Homo sapiens: one gene and its partners. The protein of the gene in region 2 purifies or fractionates together with the protein of the main gene of each other region. This does not show direct contact. Each region holds a gene or a part of one and is shown on either strand. Other genes may lie near its edges.

Region 1 (3,647 bases), on a different chromosome or scaffold from region 2:
TCGCAGACACAGGTGCTCAGGTGGTAGGAAATTTATGCAAGAACTTCTTCCCATGGGTGAGCTGCATCCAGCCCAGAATCCGAGCCTGGCCCTTGCTCTCCCCAGTCTAATTTCCCAGCTTTGGCTTGTGAAAGTCACCTTCAGTGACTTTGACTCCTGGGTCATCCAGGCACGCCTTCCCCAGGTGTCCTGACATTGGCCCTCCCCTTGGCTGAGCTTGCACTCAAGTCACCCTTTTCCTGCCCCTCCACAGCTGCTGCTGCTTCCTGGCTCTCTCCTTTGAAATGTATTTTTTTTTCCTGAACTATGTTTTTAATGCTGGAAAAGCTTGTCCTTGGGAGTTGGGGATGGAGGGAAAGTGAATTAGGCAGGCTCTTGGGGGCTCCCATCAGTTAGGACTGGAGATATGGGCTGAGACGTACATAAATCCTTTGGGGAAATTCTGGTTGGGCCCTGAAAGAAAAGCAGACCTGTAGCAGTTTAAGGGGCAGTTTCAACCTGGATTCTGCTTCTAAGTTGTTGTATGACCTTGAGTGATATGATACTCTGAGCTCTTTGAGGCTGTATTATCCTTGATTTGTCCTATTTTGAGGCTCAGATGAGACAAATGAAGAACATTTGCCGAGTACCCTGCCATCTGCATGAACTTTGGCAGGTGGAGGAAGGAGTCTTAGAATACAGTGGGGAGCTATGGGAGTAGAGCGCTACCTCCTGCACCCATCTCAGCTGCTGAGGAGCTTGTGGGCCATAGCCTTGGCCCTGCCCCTTCTCTTTGTGCCAGAGTCTGGCCTGAAAATGCCCATTGTCTGGTGGTGCAGCCCGTGTCAGGGTCAGGAGACTGAAGCTATCCCGGCTGTCTCCAGGCAGCACCCCCTGGGGCTGTCTCTGGGCTGGGGATATCCTGGCATGGGTGACTTTTCCTACCAGAATGGGGATGTGGAGAAGGAGGCCGATGTCCCTAGGCTGGTTGCCTCTTTTTGTCCTTCTCATCCTCCCACCAAGGATATGAGGCTACTGCCTAGCAACCTGCTTGGGGCAAGTCCAGATAGAACTCCCTCTGGGATCCTCAGTCCCCAACTCCCTAACATAGATTGCTATGGTGACACTATGATTGACAACAGAGGGGTCCCAAGCATCTGATCCCCGCTATTAGAGTGTGGCTTCCTCTGCTTAGTCTCATCTCCACAGACCAAGGTGCTGGAGAGGGATCCAGTGGGCTGAGCCAGGCTTCTCTCAGTCCCCTTTGTATACTGGGCTGTCTGTCCTTCTCCTTTAGAGATCATTGTGTTTCAGGGCTGTGATCTGGACCCTCTTATTTTTTTCTCATTCAACACTTTCTCCTTGGGCAATTCTCATCTATTCCCATAACTTCAATTACCAGCTGTTAGCTGATGACTCTCAAATCTATGGCTTTTGCTCTAACCTCTATGCTGGGCTTCAGGCTTTTATATCCAACTCTTTCTAGATGCTTCTGCCTGCATAACCTATCAGGTGTCTCTGAATCAACTTGTCTAAGACTGAGCTTATCACCTTCCACCTCCCATTAAAGGTGTTACTGTTCCCCGCTACTCACCCCACAGGTCTCAGTAAATAGCTCCACCGTCTACTTAGTTGTTTAGCCAGTGACCTGAGAGGTGTCTTTATTCTTCTCCTTCCTCATATCCAGTCAGTCATCAAGTCCTGTCTGTTTTGCCTCTTAGCTCTCTCTGAGTTCATTGTCTACTTCTCTTCCTCCCTGCTGCCACCACACTCCTCAAGAGTTGGGATTTGGTGGTAGAGGGTGGAGCGGATGGCAGGGATTGATGCTCTCATGAGCTGTTGCTGCCTTCCAAAGTCTTTTTTTTTTTTTTAAATCAGGGCTTATGAGCCTGTGTTTACTCTTCTGTATCCCACTCTTGTTCAATCACCCCTGACAGACTGTATTAGTTTCCTAGGGCTACCATAACATAGTACCACAAACTAGGTGGCTTTAAAGCCAAACAGAAATTAACTGTCTCACAATTGTGAAGGATAGAAGTCTGAAATCAAGGTGTTGGCAAGGCTGTGCTCCCTCTGAAACCTGTAGGAGACTCCGTCCTTGCCTCTTCCTAGCTCTGTGGTTTGCTGGCGGTCTTCAGTGTTCCCTGGCTTCCAGCTGGATCACTCCACTCTCTACTTTCATCCTCACGTGGCATTCTCCCTGTATGTCTCTGTCTTCACATAGATATCTTCTTATAAGGACACCAGTCATATTGGAGTTCAGGTCCATCCTACTCCAGTATAACCTCATCTGCAATTATCTTATTTCCAAATAAGATCACATTTTGAGGTACTGGGGATTAAGATTTATCAAAAAATGTATCTTTTTGTGGGGACTTAATTTGACCCATGACAGTCTGCCCTCTGGTGCCCCAAACTTCATGTTATCCCCACATGCAAAATATATTCACTTCATCTCAATCTCCCCAAAAGTTGTAACCTAGCTGGATGTGGTGGCTCCACCTGTAATCCCAGCTACTCTGGAGGCTGAGCAGGAGGCTGAGTCTCTTGAGCTCAGGAGTTCGAGACCAGCCTGGGTAACACAGCAAAACCCCATCTCAAAAAAAAAAAAAAAAAAAAAATCTTAACCCATTCCGGAATCAGCTCTCAGTCCAACTGGAGAACACAATTCAACCCATAATGCTGACCTTCTCATACGTCCTTCTCAGAGTTCTTCTGGGGGTCCCTGATCTAAGGTTCTTCCCAACATTGGGAACATCAAATCTGCCATGTAGACCCTGACCCTTTTTTTGCTTAGGATTTGATAAGGGAAGGGGAGCTTTGATGGAAGACAAGGAGATTATGCCTTTCTCTTAAAGCCAGTGTGGGGTTGAGCAGAGAGCTCTGATGGATTTTCTCACCTCATGCCTCTAGGTACGTGAACACACTCCTGAAACTCATCCCGCTGGTGCTGGGTCTGCAGGAACAACTGCGGCAGGCAGTGCAGAATGGGGACATGGAGACCTCCCATGGCATCTGTCGCATCGCTGTGGCCCTGGGCGAGAACCACTCCCGGTAAAGGGTGGAGCAGCTTGGGGTGGGATAGTAGGGCCCTCTAAGAAATGGGGTTCTGGAAGTCCCTGGAAAGGTAGAATGACCTGACTCTCTCCCCAGGGCCTTGCTGGACCAAGTAGAGCACTGGCAGAGTTTCCTGGCACTCGTCAACATGATTATGTTCTGCACAGGCATCCCTGGCCACTATCCTGTCAATGAGACCACCAGCTCCCTAACCCTCACCTTCTGGTACACACTGCAGGTGTGTCTGTGTGACCTCCAGTAGGACTGGGCTGTGGTGGAAGAAGGTGGATCATGGGCTTCTATGACTGCTGGTGAGGTGGCTAATTCTCTTCCCTGGCTCTCTCAGGATGATATTCTATCCTTTGAGGCAGAGAAGCAGGCTGTATACCAGCAGGTGTACCGGCCAGTCTACTTCCAGCTGGTGGATGTGCTTCTGCACAAGGCCCAGTTCCCTTCTGATGAGGAATATGGATTCTGGTCCTCAGACGAGAAGGAGCAGTTCCGAATTTACAGGTGATGGTAGCAGGCCAACTCCTCTAAAATGGAGTCCAGAAATAATGAAGGCAATGAGGGAAGGGGCCCAAGTCCAGGCTTTCTGAATTTTGGTGCTC
Region 2 (3,647 bases):
TTCCTTCTGAACCTCCTGTAGCACTTTGTACAGAATGGCAAGTTCAGCTTGGTTGGAGGCCAGAGCCATGGTCTTGTTGGAAATAAGTACCTGATGTGAGGTACAAAGACCTGGAAGCAAAGCCCTGCCCCACCGTTTCCCTAGTTACGTGACCTGAGATAAATTACTTGAGAAAAGAATATTAAAGTCATCCAGCTCATGGGTTACTGTGAGAATTCAGTAGAAAAATACCTATGAAGGCACCTGGTGTACTGCGGCAGTTGGCCAGTGTTTACACAGCATTTTTTTTAGGGCAGAGAAAGATACAAATGAATCAAAATGGTTCTGAGCAGGTAGCTCGCAAAGAGGAGAAAGCCTGGACTCTGCGGACCTGGCTTCCTGTTCTGCCCTGTGTGGCCTGAGCAAGTCCTGGAACCGCTCTAAGCCTGTTTCCTCAGATGAGAATTGGGAGGAATCATGATGATAATAATAATAATAACCATACCCTTAATTATCTCTTAGGGTTGCTCTGAGGACTAAAAAATATAAGATATCAGCAGACATGGGATAGGAACTAAAAATTTAGCCTATCCTCCCCCCAGATTTAGCATCGTGCTGGTGATAATGCTCCTTATTTTTAAAGATAGTCTTAAACCATGTCCAGGTGTTTTCTGTTGACTCAATAAGAGCCTAGGATGCACTTCTGACAAAATGTTTGCAGTCCAGTATAAAACTTTACCTTAGCCAGGCATGGTGGCACATGCCTGTTATCCCAACCATTTGAGAGGCTGAGGCAGGAGGATCGCTTGAGCCCAGGAGTTTGAGGTTGCAGTGACTGCATTCCAGCCTGGGCAATAGAGTGAGACCCTGTTTCAAAAAACAAGGACAACAACAACAAACAACAAAGAAAACCTTTACCATCTCTGGAAGCCACCTTTTGGGTGGCAAAACACCAATAAAAATGAATGAGGGTGGAGAAGAAGAGGAAAGAGAAGCAGCTAATGAGAAACGGAGGGCCAGCGTAGGAGCAAGAAGAGACACTCGGTCTACCAAGTTTGATAAGATGAAAGCTTTCTTCCCGAGCTCTTCTCCCCTTGTCTGCCTTGAGCCCTTCTCTTCTGTCCTTCTTTCCATTGAAACCTTCACGAAGGCAAAGCCAACGAAGATCTCAGAGAGTGCAAGGGGAGGCACAGTGTGGCAGGAAGAGCACCTCCCCCGCAGGCTGAGGAAGCTTGCCCACACCGCGGGGCTCCTGCAGCTGCAGCCTTACTGACTAGGCTGATTCCTGGCAACAATGAGGCTGGGACGGTGTGACAATAAGAAGGAGAACACCTACCACGTATTGAACTTTCAGTGTTTGCTCTACCAGTACGTTCTCAGTGAACTCTCAACGAAAGTCTCATAGGGCAGTTCTGCAGCCCCTTCTCTTTGCCCAGTCATGGAGTTAGTAAGCTGCAGAGGCAGGACTTGAAGTCAAGTCTCCCACTCCACCGTCCCCTTTCAGCTAAAGATGTCTGAGCAAGCGTTTCTGGGTGAGGTCATTCAGAAGTGGTTTATGCCAGCAATTTGTTTTATTCATCTTCCTAGAGGAGGAAGTGGTGAATAAGCTCTTTTACTCATGAGTAAGTGGAATTTATTTCTGACAGATTGTTAATTGGAGGGTCGTATAAAGATTTCCCCATAGAACAAACATGGCTTAGACTTGAGGGGCTAGCTGGGGAGTAGCCTGCAAGTCAGCCCAGAAGGGTGAGGTTACCCCAGTGATGCTGGTGCTTCAGACACTGAGGGAGCTGGGAGAAACTTCTGTCAAAGTCATAGAGCTCATCACGGTGTCAAACACTTCTGAGAGGCCAAAGTGAGAACCAAAAAGGCCCATGAGGTTTAGCAGTGAGAAGGTAGGTTGCTCTCCAGTGTCTGAGATCACATCATTCATTTCATTCTATTTCTACTCAAAAGATTTTCAAGGGATTGTTCTCTATCTTGTCACCAGTTTTGGGGAGTGCACTCTCTTTAGGGTCACTCTGTGTATTCCCTTGCCATACAGCTTGCTGGAAGTCTCTTTTCACTGAATTTAACCACCTGATTGTTAATGAAGATAGAGATGCACCTCTGCTGTAGCTGAATAGCTCAACAGTCTCCAAAGTTAGCTATCCAAGTCTTTTCTGGACCTGGATGTTTAAATCAATCAGTACATCTGCAACTGTAATGGTTATTTTTATCTTTTGACATATCTCACCTGAATCTGAACACAATCTAATGAATCTGATGTATTTTTCTTAAACTTTTTTTTTTTTTTTTTGCTGTGAAATAGTCTAGTCACGCATTTTGGTGGCTAGAAGAGTGAATTAATAGTAGTCTAATCACCCTGGAGATGCTATGCTTCTGTGAGCTGGCACTGAGGTAAGGTGGCACATCTCTGTGGGAATGACAAGTGAATGAATCTGCTCCTCATTTAACCTGCTGTTCTTTTCTCTCTCTCTGTTTTCTCTCCTAGGAAACAAATGGAAGACTGCTGCGACCCTGCCCATCTCTTTGCTATGACTAAAATGAATTCCCCTATGGGGAAGAGCATGTGGTATGACGGGGAGTTTTTATACTCATTCACCATTGACAATTCAACTTACTCTCTCTTCCCACAGGTTAGTATAGAGTTGGTTGCCTTCAGTATGGTTTCTTAAATTTCTTGCTGTCATAGAAAAGGGATAATTGAGTTTGCCTTACTCATCAGATTGACTTTTTGTTTTCTTTCTTCTCTCTTTAAATGTTTTTCTTTATATCTGTCATCTGTGTGTGTGAATAAATCACAGTGTTTTGATGCAAGGGTGGAAGCAGGATGTTACAGAGTTACAGTTTTCCTAGCCTTTCTGATTTGAGTCCTATGAGACTGAAGGAAGCAAGAAATGAATGATCAGGGACTTGTGGAATTCTAGTGTTCTGAGGTTGGCTGTGGAATGACCATGAGGATTTGTGTGATACTGGAATGTTTTCTTAGGACTGATGTTGCTCAGGGAGTGGGGACCATATGGTGAGAAGTTTGCTTCTTAGAGCTCTTGAATGTTAACCCTGTGGTTAGATTACCACTGTGAAATGGAGGAGTGGTGGATATGGAGAGGAATAATTCAACTTGACCACTTTTGAAGTGGTCTAAATCAAGCTTTGCTTACTTAATATTTATTCTTGGTTTTCTGGGCATTGAAATAAAATGTTTTTCTAATATACATGTAGGCAGCAAGAGGGGGGAAAAGGGAAATTTTATTTTAGGGAACCCTAGTTTTGGGGAGGGGAGATCTTAGGCAAAATTGCAATTAGGGAAAAATTCAGAAATGAATCATGGCCTCCCCAAGACATCTTTTAGCCACCCTTGGTTTGCTCAGATGATTGTACAGAAAGAGAATTTTTAAGCCTTAGAAAGTGGGACTGAATCTTTCATGTGTCTCTGTTAATAGCCCATGAGACTTTAAAGGAGGAATCCCACAAAGCTGAGGCACAGGTTCTACCAGATCCAAAGTCACACTCTCTATAAAACAGCCATGCTGACTAGCTCATCCTTAGATATTTTAGTCTAGTTTAATGGTCTTAAAATGCAGTGATAAGGTTTTTCTTTTAATTTTTGAAATAAGAAGTAGAAGCTTTAGTTTATTGCCAGCATCTACATGTTTTCTCTCTTC
Region 3 (3,647 bases), on a different chromosome or scaffold from region 2:
TCGAGGAGAAAAGCTACCCACTATGTTGAAAATGCAGAATCATCACACAAATGGGCAAGTTCCACAGTCCGCAGTGTGATCCACCCCAAGGCCCAGGCGTCCACAGCAACCTATCTAGACTGGGACACCAAGGAGGAGAGCTGTCAAGTCAGAGGGGAGCAGAACTACCAGGGTCTGCACCCCATCAGCACCTGCAGCAGAGACAGACAGACTCTGGCGGATGCAGTGGCCAGTTCCCCGAAAGGAAGGGGGCTGTGCTGTGCAAGGCGGGTGAGTGCACCTCTACTGTGCCAGGCTTCCGTTCCCAAACCAGCCCTGCTCCCTCTGGCCTGACTGTAGGCTGACCAAGCGATCCTCTCATTGCCCATCTGTTCCCTCAGGCCCTGGATATGAAGCTAAGGAATAGGAGTGTCCTGGTCACTAGGAATGAACGTGCTTCCTGAATTAACTAAGAGCTCGCTGACACCCCATGTGGGTAGCAGAGATCAGTGCTGGGCCCCTCTGAGGCCGGGCTTCCTGAGAGCTCATCCGTGAACGGCGGACTGAGCTCCTAAATGGCCCACCCTCCGTTCGCCAAAAGGAGGTAGGTTTGGGGCCTGAGGGATGTGGTGGGTAGCCTGGTGTGCCTGCAGTGGCAGACAAGGGGAGTGGGGTTCTTACTGGCTGAGGTGCAGGCCCATTTCCTGGAGGGCTTGTTCCTGCTCCTCGCAGATCTTCTGCAGCTCTGCCTTCTCGTCCTGAAGCTCCCGCAACTCCTAAAATGAACAAACCAACCAGATGCTGGACAGAGGATTACACGGTCCTTTTTTTTTTTTTTTTTTTTTTTTTTGAGACAGGGTCTTGCTCTGTTGCCAGGCTGGAGTGCAGTGGCACGATCTTGGCTCACTGCAACCTCCGCCTCCTGGGTTCAAGCGATTCTCCTGCCTCAGCCTCCCAAGTAGCTGGGACTACAGGTGCCCGCCACCATGCCCTGCTAATTTTTGTATTTTCAGTAGAGACGGGGTTTCACCATGTTGGCCAGGATGGTCTCAAACTCCTGACCTCGTGATCTGCCCGCCTCGGCCTCCCAAAGTGCTGGGATTACAGGCGTGAGCCACTGCACTGGCCTTTAAAAAAAAAAAAAAGATTCAGCAACCAGAGCAACAAGCAGATCAGAATGTTTTTCAAGAGCAAAAGGTGGCCAGGCACAGTGGCTTATGCCTATACTTCCAGCACTTTGGGAGGCCAAGACAGGTGGATCACCTGAGGTCAGGAGTTTGAGGCCAACCCGGCCAACATGGTGCAACCCTGTCTCCACTAAAAATACAGAAATTAGCTGGGTGTGGTGGCAGGCACCTGTAATCCCAGCTACTTGGGAGGCTGAGGCAAGAGAACTGCTTGAACCCGGGAGGCGGAGGTTGCAGTGAGCCGAGATGGTGCTACTGTACTCCAGCCTGGGCGACAGAGCAAGACTCCATCTCAAACAAAACAAAACCAAAAAAAAGAGCAAAATGCAGTCCTGTATTAATGTCATTCAAGATTATTTCTTGCTAGCTTACTCTTGACACTGGGCAGCTAAAAGGCAAGCACTCGACGAGGGCTCTGCAGCTGGGGACAGAGACATGGGACAGGATAGTTACATTCATCAGCCACATTAAAAATAGTTACCCTCAGCTGGGCGCAGTGGCTCACACCTGTAATCCCAGCACTGGGAGGCTGAGGTGGGCGGATCACCTGAGGTCAGGCATTCAAGACCAGCCTGGCCAACATGGCAAAACCCCTCCTTTAGTTAAAAATACAAAAATTAGCAGGGCATGGTGGCACATGCCTGCAATCCCAACTACTCGGGAGGCTGAGGCAGGAGAATCGCTTGAACTGGGGAGGCGGAGGTTGCAGTGAGCCGAGATCACACCACTGCACTCCAGCCTGGGCAACAGAGCAAGACTCCGTCTCAAAAAAAAAAAAAAAAAAAAAAAAAAAAAAGTTACCATCATAGGACAAATGAGGCTTTGCCTATTTGAGCTTCTTTTTAAAAGATAAACATTTTACAAAACAGATTGCTATCTCAAAAAATCTATAGAAGAACTGTACACAAAATCACACGAACCTTGCATCAGCAAAGACTAGTTTGAAAGGTGGTTTCCTGTTCAATTCTGAAAAAGCTGCTTTTTTGGAAAGCACTGGTCAAGGATGATGAAGGGGGTGACCTGGGACCTCATTTCATGGCTAGACCACTTGGAGGCTGGCTAGACCATGTGAGGAGCCCTGCACGGAGGGAGTTCCCCAGGGGGCAACGGCACTGACACCTGGGGCCAGTGCACCTTGAGCCAGTCTGTTAAGGCCAGGATGGAGACCCAGAAAGTAACTGGGGTTTCTGGGACCACTGGGAGCAGCGGTGGAGCTCGGGCCCGAGTGGCGGGGTGGCTCTCTGCACACCCTGTGCCGTAGCTTCTGCTTCCATGCACAGGCTTGCAAAGCACAAAGCTGTGGCTTAACTGGGGTTATTAGACATTGTTTTGTTCCTATTGTTGGGGCGGGCTGTAATTGTGTAATTCGAATCTTTTGACAGAAGCATTCTGAAGCAGAATAAAGGAGGTATGCCCCGTGATGAGGCGGGACTTTCTGAAAGTCCTCTTCTGCCCTCCACTTCCTCCCTTCCACTCTCCAAGCCTGATCTGGCTCTTGAGGAAGCTCTCCCTTCCCCAACAACTCCAGGCACTTTCCAATGGAAATCAAAAGGGCCTTTCCTGACTCGCTCGAATCGTGCAGTGTGTCCATTACCACGTTCAACACAACAAAATCCAGGTCCAGAAGCCACCCTGGCCCTGAAGGCCCCTCCGGGGCAGGTGCCGAGGGGAGGTCTGCTTTGGGCTCAGTTTTCCTGCAGCGCTCGGCAGCGCAGGGGCCTGAGAAGAGGGCACGCCATCCCCACGTGGGAGGAGCCCCCCAGAGCGCCCCAGGCTGCAGTCAGCTCCATCCAGGATCGCAGAGCCTCCTCCCCTCTGGGAAAACAGCCGATGATTTTACATTAGGGCAAATGTTCCACACGGCCTCGGAGTTTCCTGGGAGGTCCAGTTCCACAGCCAGACAGTGAAGGCCTGCTGGACCCCACTTCTCTCGCCCTCTGAAGCCCACAGCATCCAGGCCATGCCTCCAAGTGAGAGGGTCCTCCATGGAACTGAGGTGATGTAGGGGAAGTGGAGGGCTGGGGTCGGTCTGCTTCCCAGGGATGACCCGACCCTGGGCACAGTGGCTGAGGTGAGGCTGGCATGTGGTAGGAGATGTTTACTGGTTCCTCCCAGCTTCCTCTCCTGCGAGCCTACCACCCACTCTCCACACAGGAGCCAATGACCATCCGCAAACAGAACGGATCCTGTCCCTCCACCAGCTGCCCACTCTGGTAAAATAAAACCCACGTTCCTTCCCCTGGCTCCCAGGGCCCATGAAGGGCTTCCTCCTGCCTGCCGCCTGAGGCCGCCTCTTTGCTCCTCACACTGCTGTCTGCTCCTGCAGTCTCCACCCAAGAGGTGCTTTGCAGGGCATAACTCACTGGAGCCTCTGCTCACCGGTCGCTCCCTCCCCAGGCCCCTTGCACACGGGTGAGGACACTGTTCTGCTTTATTCTCTTCATGGCACTTGCCTCTATCTGAGCTGCCAGCAGGCTTAGT

The links.
Region 1: the proteins of ST8SIA1 (region 2) and IPO13 purify together in Homo sapiens (affinity purification with mass spectrometry; 3 studies listed by BioGRID and IntAct, with this or other methods). This does not show direct contact.
Region 3: the proteins of ST8SIA1 (region 2) and RUFY1 purify together in Homo sapiens (affinity purification with mass spectrometry; 2 studies listed by BioGRID and IntAct, with this or other methods). This does not show direct contact.

The regions. Positions count from the first base shown.
Region 1 is NC_000001.11:43,953,428-43,957,074, forward strand, and holds part of IPO13 (importin-13), read left to right. Parts: intron 1-35; exon of another isoform or gene 36-56; intron 57-2,892; coding exon 2,893-3,033; intron 3,034-3,132; coding exon 3,133-3,274; intron 3,275-3,382; coding exon 3,383-3,549; intron 3,550-3,647. UniProt on the Homo sapiens protein: Functions in nuclear protein import as nuclear transport receptor. Serves as receptor for nuclear localization signals (NLS) in cargo substrates.
Region 2 is NC_000012.12:22,286,120-22,289,766, reverse strand, and holds part of ST8SIA1 (alpha-N-acetylneuraminide alpha-2,8-sialyltransferase), read left to right. Parts: intron 1-2,473; coding exon 2,474-2,618; intron 2,619-3,647. UniProt on the Homo sapiens protein: Catalyzes the addition of sialic acid in alpha 2,8-linkage to the sialic acid moiety of the ganglioside GM3 to form ganglioside GD3; gangliosides are a subfamily of complex glycosphingolipds that contain one or more residues of sialic acid.
Region 3 is NC_000005.10:179,599,000-179,602,646, reverse strand, and holds part of RUFY1 (RUN and FYVE domain-containing protein 1), read right to left. Parts: intron 3,380-3,647; exon of another isoform or gene 3,258-3,379; intron 3,163-3,257; exon of another isoform or gene 3,012-3,162; intron 2,575-3,011; exon of another isoform or gene 2,549-2,574; intron 756-2,548; coding exon 661-755; intron 584-660; exon of another isoform or gene 381-583; intron 271-380; exon of another isoform or gene 1-270. UniProt on the Homo sapiens protein: Activating adapter involved in cargo sorting from early/recycling endosomes. Regulates retrieval of proteins from endosomes to the trans-Golgi network through interaction with the dynein-dynactin complex.